Regions from separate parts of the Homo sapiens genome. Here region 2 is linked to region 1. The links come from fine-mapping of genetic effects on gene expression. A gene starts in region 1. The other region holds a variant in brackets. All regions are shown on one strand. Distances are between the middles of the regions.

The links. PIP is the estimated chance that this variant, and not a neighbour inherited with it, causes the effect.
Region 2: its variant is the best candidate, but not a certain one, in a credible set for the expression of ZNF214 in gastroesophageal junction (GTEx, PIP 0.78).

The regions. Positions count from the first base shown.
Region 1 is chr11:7,018,428-7,022,825 of GRCh38, forward strand. ZNF214 (zinc finger protein 214) reads right to left here and starts at 1,919. Exons shown (of 3, transcript NM_013249.4): 1 at 1,646-1,919. It overlaps NLRP14 (NLR family pyrin domain containing 14), which reads left to right and starts at 2,052. Exons shown (of 12, transcript NM_176822.4): 1 at 2,052-2,343.
Region 2 is chr11:7,921,814-7,926,211 of GRCh38, forward strand. It overlaps OR10A6 (olfactory receptor family 10 subfamily A member 6 (gene/pseudogene)), which reads right to left. Exons shown (of 4, transcript NM_001004461.2): 4 at 2,779-4,398. Among named protein-coding and RNA genes, the nearest start is that of OR10A6, 7.3 kb to the right of the region's middle. The variant C/T (reference allele first, on the strand shown) is at 2,019.

The sequences.
Region 1 (4,398 bases):
TGTTTAATGTCGATAACTTCAGAAATTATTATTAATCTCATATAGTTTATTACCCCCAATGTTAAGACTTTTTTTTTTTTTTTTTTTTTTTTGAGAGGGAGTCTTCCTCTGTTGCCCAGGTTGGAGTGCAGTGGTGCCATCCTGGCTCACTGCAACTTCAGCCTCCCGGGTTCAAGCAATTCTCCTGCTTCAGCCTCCTGAGTAGCTGGGATTACAGGTGCCTGCCACAATGCCTGGCTAATTTTTGTATTTATAGTAAAGACGAGGTTTCACCATGTGGGCCAGGCTGGTCTCAAACTCCTGACCTCAAGTGATCCGCCCACCTTGGCCTCTCAAAGTGCTGGGATTACAGGCGTGAGCCACCGCGCCTGGCGATGACATTCTTATAATTCTTTATCTCAGAACACCAAGAACAGCATGAATTATACACTAGACTTGAGTGACTGAATGAATGAATGAGTAAATGTTGGGAAAAGACACTGGGTTGGGGCAGGGTCAAGTCTGCACGCTCGAAAATTTCACAGGCAAGCGAGGAACGTTTTCTGTCCAGTCATCCATCCATCCTCATTGCCACCTCCACCACCCATGGAGAATGCAGGGACATTTTGTAAATGAGAAAAGACAATCATCCTCACTTGGGATCAGACTATGAGGGAAACAGTGTACATTCCTTCCTCCTTTGTGTTCCTCTTCTGGGGAAGGGTAGAGTGCTGAGACGGCTGAGCTGAGGAGGAAGGCAGACTGAAAACCTGGGTATGGCTTTAAATTCCCAAATTCATTAAATTTCCCATATACTAACTGGGTATGACGCACACATCTCCTAGCAAGAGGTCCAAAAGAAGCCTATGAATGCTCTTGTTTCCTTTCAACGACCAGAAAGGAGAGCTATGAACACTGGCACCTTGAAATTTATTTCCAACCCTCTAGAAACTTCAAAAGATACAACTCACTTATTTATTGAGATTATTATTACTACTAACAATAATAGGAAAGCACCAGCACACTTAAATAGTATCTATTCTCAAGGTATTTTTCTTATTTTGTTCAGTTTAAGTAGAAAATCATTCCATTGTCCTCCCCTACTTGCTAAACAGGAATACTGGATTTACTATCAGAAAAGTACCTGGAGTCTTAGAGAAGTATCCCAGAACTGGAGCTCCCAGGTCCTGATCAAAGTCTCAACTGTGCCATCAAGCACTTGTAGAACTTTAAAGAGGACCAAACTTATAGATCTCCAAGATCTCAGTTTCCTTACCTGTAAAATGGGGGCATGAGCCTTTGCCACCCCAGTCCTTCCTTGCTGATCAAAGGTAGGTTCCTGGGCAAAGTAATAAGCAATTAGTTAACCCTCTTTCTCTAGGGAAAAAACGTTTCATGCGTGCCCCAAGAGCAGGACAGGTTTGGGCTCCCCCAACGCGTCACGGGCTGCCCAAGTGTAAGCACCAGAGAACCAGACACACGAACGGTTCTCTAGGAGCGGGATCTCCCGGTCTCCGCCACAGACCCGGGGGTCCCCTGCTCCTGCACTGAAGACGCGCGCGGCCTCCGTTGCTTATCCAGATCCCCGGCCAGAACTCTGCCCCGGCACCGAACACCGGGCACCCATACCCCGGGGCCCAAGCTGCTTCTGCCCTCCTCTACTTGCCTTTATTAAGTCTTAACGTGGGAGAGAAGCCGTGATGTACCCATCTACACGGGTGTCTCTGGGGTTTCTAAACCGGAGTAGCTTCTCAGTCCCTGACCCTCGATTTTCTGCCCCTCTTCCTTCAAGCACAGCTCGTCTTGCCCTGTCCGCTTCTGGCTCAGTCCTCCTGAGAGTTCATGTCACTTAACGGAGCCTGTGAGAGTGGACCGGGATGGCCAAAACACTCAGTCCACACAAACAATGGCCGCAGCCCGGCTGGACCGAAACGGAAGTCCCAGGTCTTGGAGTAGACACTCGCAGTGTTTCCATGGATACGGGAGGGGCGGGGCGGGAAGAGAGAGCGCGGGAAAACGTGACTCCTGATTGGCCAGAAGTATCCCGCGCCTCCCGACCTTTGGCCGCTGGCATTCCTGCGCGGGCGGGAGCTGCGGGCGCTCGGGGGATAAGGCGAGGACGCACCAGCATTAATGGAATAGGAGAACTCCCGAAGCTTTTAGGGCCCTGGGAAAGGGGGCGTGGCTGGAAACGGAGCTACTGGCTTCGGAGAATTCTGTGACCCTCACCACCGCGACGACCCCGAGGAAACGCTGTCAGGTCGCCTTTGGTTGGCAAGGCGTGGTTGTCCTCGCTGTCCCGCGCCTTGGCGGAATGGGCACCTCACTAGCCCTGGCACTAGCTAGCATCGCTCTAAACTCAAGGTTAGAGGTTTTCAAATTCCGTCCTATTGTTGCCAGACACCCTCTTCGTTCCTGGTCCAGTGAGGCTTTCCTCCCTCCCGCCTTCTTGCCAAATCCCAGGCTCCTCTGGAGACTCCAGGCAGAGAAGGGAAACGCACAGTGGAGCTGAAATGAAGCCATGAGAAGGAGCCCCTCCTCAGTGTCCTGGGACCACAGAGAGTTGCAAGAGCCTGTTCTATTATTTAGCTGAGTGTGTTATATTAGGAAAATACTTTCGCATCTTTGGGCCCTGTCCTTCAAACTTGGGCTGGATCAGTAATATTCAAACATTTTATTAGGCAAGGAACTTTTGGTAGGATAGTCATTACAAGCAAGGGACTCCTTGGATTCAAATCTGACAACACCACTTACGAGATCTTGGCTGGATTACCTAACCTTTAAGCATCAGCTTAATAGGCGTAATATTGATAGCCAATAATAATAGTAACTATGTAACAGACTTGTTAGATTGAAATGAGTTAGTGTAGTTAAAATGCTTAAACCAGCCCCTTGCACATAGGAAGTAGTCTTGTGAACTATATATTTACAGTTTGGTGTTTAGCAGGGGTGGGTGGCCCAGCGCCTATCTGCTTGAGTTCACCACACAATAAGCTCTTGCATTTTTTATGACTCTGGAGACCACATTTTGAAAATTACTGGGCGTGGGCCTTCCCTGGTTTGAACATTCAGAGAGCATAGCATAGCATTTTAAAAATGTGGGCTTTGTTGTCTGACGGAACTGACATTAAGAGCTGTCAATCATTGTTATCCACTAGGTGGTGGTAAGCAAGTTGTTTAACCGCTCACCCTTAAGTATTTTCACCTGTAAATTGCAATGTATTTATTTATTTATTTTTTATTATACTGTAAGTTTTAGGGTACATGTGCACAACGTCCAGGTCAGGTTTGTTACCTATGTATACATGTGCCATGTTGGTGTGCTGCACCCATTAAATCTGTCTCTGCATTCAGTAATTCAACTATCAATTGCGGCTATTTAAATACATTAAAAAGCAATGTATTTAAATAGCCGCAATTGATAGTTGAATTACTGAATGCAGAGACATTGACCGGTAAGAACGAACACTGGAAGTGGGCTGTTCTGCCACACTGCTTCCAACCTGAGAATATTACCTGAACCTCATTGAACTAACCAAAATTAAAAGAAAAAAAAAAAGCTAAGAGGATCCAGTTTTCAGAGAAACAAAATGTGTATCTGAAGGAATATACCTGCTAAAGGGCAGAGGCCAATATGAATAACAAAGAGCACCAAGTATAGCATACGCAAGACTTTTAGGAATGAATTCTACCCAGTTACAGTTTGGGGTTTAGCAGGGGTGCCCGGCCTAGAGCCTATCTGCCTCCGTCCACCACACAGTGAGCATCTGCATTTTTTATGACTCTGGAAGCTACATTTTGAAAATTATTGGTCATGGACCCTCCCTGGCTTGAATGTGCAGAGACCCAAAGCACCAGCTTTGATGGGGGTCCTGGGAGCAGTCACCAGATGCCTAGAGATGTACCCAGGGTAGGAGTGAAGAAACTGCCTTGCATGGGAAGAGAGGGATAGCCCAAGTTCCTAGTCCAAGATGTTGCAGATTCTTCATAGCAAATAATTGAAGAATCTAAGAATATGACTGTGGCTTGAAGGCATAGAATTTTCCATAATTTTGGTTAATGTCACATAACTAAGAACAAAAATTGGAGTCAAGTCTGACAAGACAGCAAGGGATTTAGGGGCCAAGATCCTGATGAAAAGGGAATCTTTAAGCAGCCAACCTAAAACTTGGTGGTTTTCTCTTCAAACATTAGCAGAATTCTTAAGATGAACAGGGAAAGAAGATAAGAAGAAAGCTGTTGAAGTGCACAGAAAATTTTCAGAAGTCTCATCACAGATCGGAGGAGATAAAGATTATAGTTCAAAACCCATCAAGGAATAGATACCCAACTAGAATTCCTGGAGAGCAAAAGAATAAGAACAGAAGCAAACTGGCAATAAATAGAGATATAGCTGCAATTCAACTTTGAGTCAGCTCC
Region 2 (4,398 bases), 900 kb after region 1:
TGGGGATGGCATTGAATCTATAAATTACCTTGGGCAGTAAGGCCATTTTCACGATATTGATTCTTCCTACCCATGAGCATGGAATGTTCTTCCATTTGTTTGTATCCTCTTTTATTTCCTTGAGCAGTGGTTTGTAGTTCTCATTGAAGAGGTCCTTCACATCCCTTGTAAGTTGGATTCCTAGGTATTTTATTCTCTTTGAAGCAATTGTGAATGGGAGTTCACTCATGATTTGCTTCTCTGTTTGTCTGTTGTTGGTGTATAAGAATGCTTGTGATTTTTGTACATTGATTTTTGTATCCTGAAACTTTGCTGAAGTTGCTTATCAGCTTAAGGAGATTTTGGGCTGAGACAATGGGGTTTTTCAGATATACAATCATGTCGTCTGCAAAGAGGGACAGTTTGACTTCCTCCTTTCCTAATTGAATACCCTTTATTTCCTTCTCCTGCCTAATTGCCCTGGCTAGAACTTCCAACACTATGTTGAATAGGAATGGTGAGAGAGGGCATCCCTGTCTTGTGCCAGTTTTCAAAGGGAATGCTTCCAGTTTTTGCCCATTCAGTATGATATTGGCTGTGGGTTTGTCATAGATAGCTCTTATTATTTTGAGATATGTCCCATCAATACCTAATTTATTGAGAGTTTTTAGCATGAAGGGTGGTTGAATTTTGTCAAAGGCCTTTTCTGCATCTATTGAGATAATTATGTGGTTTTTGTCTTTGGGTCTGTTTATATGCTGGATTACATTTATTGATTTGTGTATATTGAACCAGCCTTGCATCCCAGGGATGAAGCCCACTTGATCATGGTGGATAAGCTTTTTGATGTGCTGCTGGATTCATTTTGCCAGTATTTTATTGAGGATTTTTGCATCAATGTTCATCAAGGATATTGGTCTAAAATTCTCTTTTTTGGTTGTATCTCTGCCTGGCTTTGGTATCAGAATGATGCTGGCCTCATAAAATGAGTTAGGGAGAATTCCCCCTTTTTCTATTGATTGGAATAGTTCCAGAAGGAATGGTACCAGTTCCTCCTTGTACCTCTGGGAGAATTTGGCTGTGAATCCATCTGGTCCTGGACTCTTTTTGATTGGTAAGCTATTGATTATTGCCACAATTTCAGCTCCTGTTATTGGTCTATTCAGAGATTCAACTTCTTCCTGGTTTAGTCTTGGGAGAATGTATGTGTTGAGGAATTTATCCATTTCTTCTAGATTTTCTAGTTTTTTTGCATAGAGGTGTTTGTAGTATTCTCTGATGGTAGTTTGTATTTCTGTGGGATCAGTGGTCATATCCCCTTTATCATTTTTTATTGTGTCTATTTGATTCTTCTCTCTTTTTTTCTTTATTAGTCTTGCTAGCGGTCTATCAATTTTGTTGATCCTTTCAAAAAACCAGCTCTTGGATTCATTAATTTTTTGAAGGGTTTTTTGTGTCTCTATTTCCTTCAGTTCTGCTCTGATTTTAGTTATTTCTTGCCTTCTGCTAGCTTTTGAATGTGTTTGCTCTTGCTTTTCTAGTTCTTTTAATTGTGATGTTAGGGTGTCAATTTTGGATCTTTCCTGCTTTCTCTTGTGGGCATTTAGTGCTATAAATTTCCCTCTACACACTGCTTTGAATGTGTCCCAGAGATCCTGGTATGTTGTGTCTTTGTTCTCGTTGGTTTCAAAGAACATCTTTATTTCTGCCTTCATTTCGTTATGTACCAACTAGTCATTCAGGAGCAGGTTGTTCAGTTTCCATGTAGTTGAGCGGTTTTGAGTGAGATTCTTAATTCTGAGTTCTAGTTTGATTGCACTGTGGTCTGAGAGATATTTTGTTATAATTTCTGTTCTTTTACATTTGCTGAGGAGAGTTTTACTTCCATGTATGTGGTCAATTTTGGAATAGGTGTGGTGTGGTGCTGAAAAAAATGTATATTCTGTTGATTTGGGGTGGAGAGTTCTGCAGACATCTATTAGGTCCGCTTGGTGCAGAGCTGAGTTCAATTCCTGTGTATCCTTGTTGACTTTCTGTCT[C/T]GTTGATCTAGAAAAATTTTTTAAAATTTTTTTTGCAGGGAAAATGCTGTGCATATAATTAGCAGTGCTTTTTATGACTTGATAAAATTCAAAACACCTTAAACATCCAAAAATAGGGAATGAGCAAATAAATAATTTTCCATGTTCTGATGAAAAACTATGTTTATGAAAATTTTGTGGTAACATAAACAATGTGTAAGTCACTAACTTAAATAAAATACACACTTGAATAATCTTATGATCCAAGTTATATAAAAAGCAAGATTTATCTTCAAGAAAAAAAAACACTTGGAACTCAAATTATGTGCAGCTTTTCATGGTAGAAATTTTTTTTTCTGCTTATTTTCTTTGAGAAGCATGTATTGGAAAAAAGTATTAACTTTTATATTTGAAACAAGCTTGCGTGATTTGCTTTCTGTTTCAAGTTTACTTGGAACATCAGCCACCTCTAAGCATCTTTGGTGAAGGGGGTTATAAAACCTTTAAATCTGTCCATATTATGGGTTGCTATTTGCCTGGATTTTCTGGAAGAAAACTGTAACTCTATTTCACTTCTAGGATATTATTTTTCTTGTCAAACTTTATTCATGACTACCAGTATTACAGCTCCATAATTTCTTTTTCAGATCTAAACAGAAAAAAATATAATTTAAAATTTTCTAACCTTAAGCTTAAATATATTGTGGAGAAAGATGCCAAATTATCCACTACATGTAAGTTTTCTTAAATTTATTTTTTTTTTTTTTTGTAACAATAACAGTCTGGATTGGGTTATGCTGTAACAGAAAACCTAGCAAATACTGGATTAAACAAAGACAAGGTTTATTTCTCTGAAGTAACAGTCAGTAAACAAATAGGCAGGAGAGGAATGATAAGGTCACTACGCAATGCCGTCACAGACCCAGGGGCCCTCTAGCTTTCCACTTGGCCTCTGTAGGGCCTGGCTTTTCTAGTCATGCTTTAACTCTCATTGCAAGATAGCTGCACTATCTCTAGCCTCATGGCTTGTTTCAGGTAGAAGGAAGGAGGAGGTTGAAGAGCAAAAAGTCCTTATTAACTAAGTCACATTTTTAAAGAGTTTTCATAGACACCCTACTCAAGGATGTCCACCTATATATCACTAGTCAGAACTGTGTCACAAACCACCCTTGTTCAAAAGAGAAACTGGGAAATTGGTTATTAACTGGATACATTACTGCCCTTAAGAAACTTGTTTTTTTTTTCTACTTAAAGAACAAAAATGGGGTTTTCTCTATTAAAGAAAAAGGAGAATGGGCATAAACTAGAAAACTAGCAGCAGTAGCAGCCACGGTGACTATAACTAAAAATCACCATGAAGAATAGTATGCAGAAATGATATGATTAGGCTATTATGTGTGAAGCATACTAACAATTTCTATTCATCAGAATAACATAAAAATTTTAAACTATGACTAAATTTACTAGCGATTATTTCTATCTCCTCACATAACATCACAAATGTATAAATTCCCAGCACATACTTGGATTCACACACGCATATACACACACACATACAAATTTAGAATTAGAGTGACCTAATTTCTTATTGTAATTTCATGAACATCTTGCCAATCCAGGCTTTATTTATCACAAAGGCAATGAAAGAGGAAAGCGTCAAATATAGTAACCTTCCAGCATCTAATGACCAGTACACTGTAAATCCTTCAAGAGCAGAGACTATTTCATTAGATTTAGCTCTCTTAAGACATTTTTATAAAGAATTTTTTTTAAGAAAAAAATTGGTTTACAGAATCAATGAACAAAATGAACTAAAGAATGGCTAAAAAGACTTTCTGTATTTAGCTTCCTTTGTTTGTTTCTTTGCTGATTTGTTCGTTTTACATAAGTCTTACTTAATTGGTTCTTTTAAAAGCTATCAGAAGGAAATTTCAGGATATCAAGAGATGGGATCCAATCAAAGGCTTTTGCTGAGGGCTGTTTGGTGCCCAAATGAAAACAGTATTATACAACATTCAGATATCACTGATAGCGACAGGAGGCAGCCAAATGCCTAGGCAGATGGGGTGGGTTCCTGGTGAAACCCCACCTCTAAACAAAAGACAGTTTAAAGCCTGAAAGCCAAACTGCAAGTTAAACTCTGGGACCGGATTGAGAACTTATCTTCCCATTTCACATACTTTCCTCTGATTGTTCCCCGCTCTTCACCTATTTTACATATACCTACCCTTTCCTAATTGGTTTTTCTACACTGTCATGCCCACCTTTGAGTGGTGTCTTCACTTTAACCTTTTTGCATACCTCACAAACCAGCATGTACTTCCCATTTTGAGTCCCTAAAAGGTCCTGGACCCAGCCACCATGGTGGGGCTTTCCTGCCTTCCAGTAGGGGAACCACCCC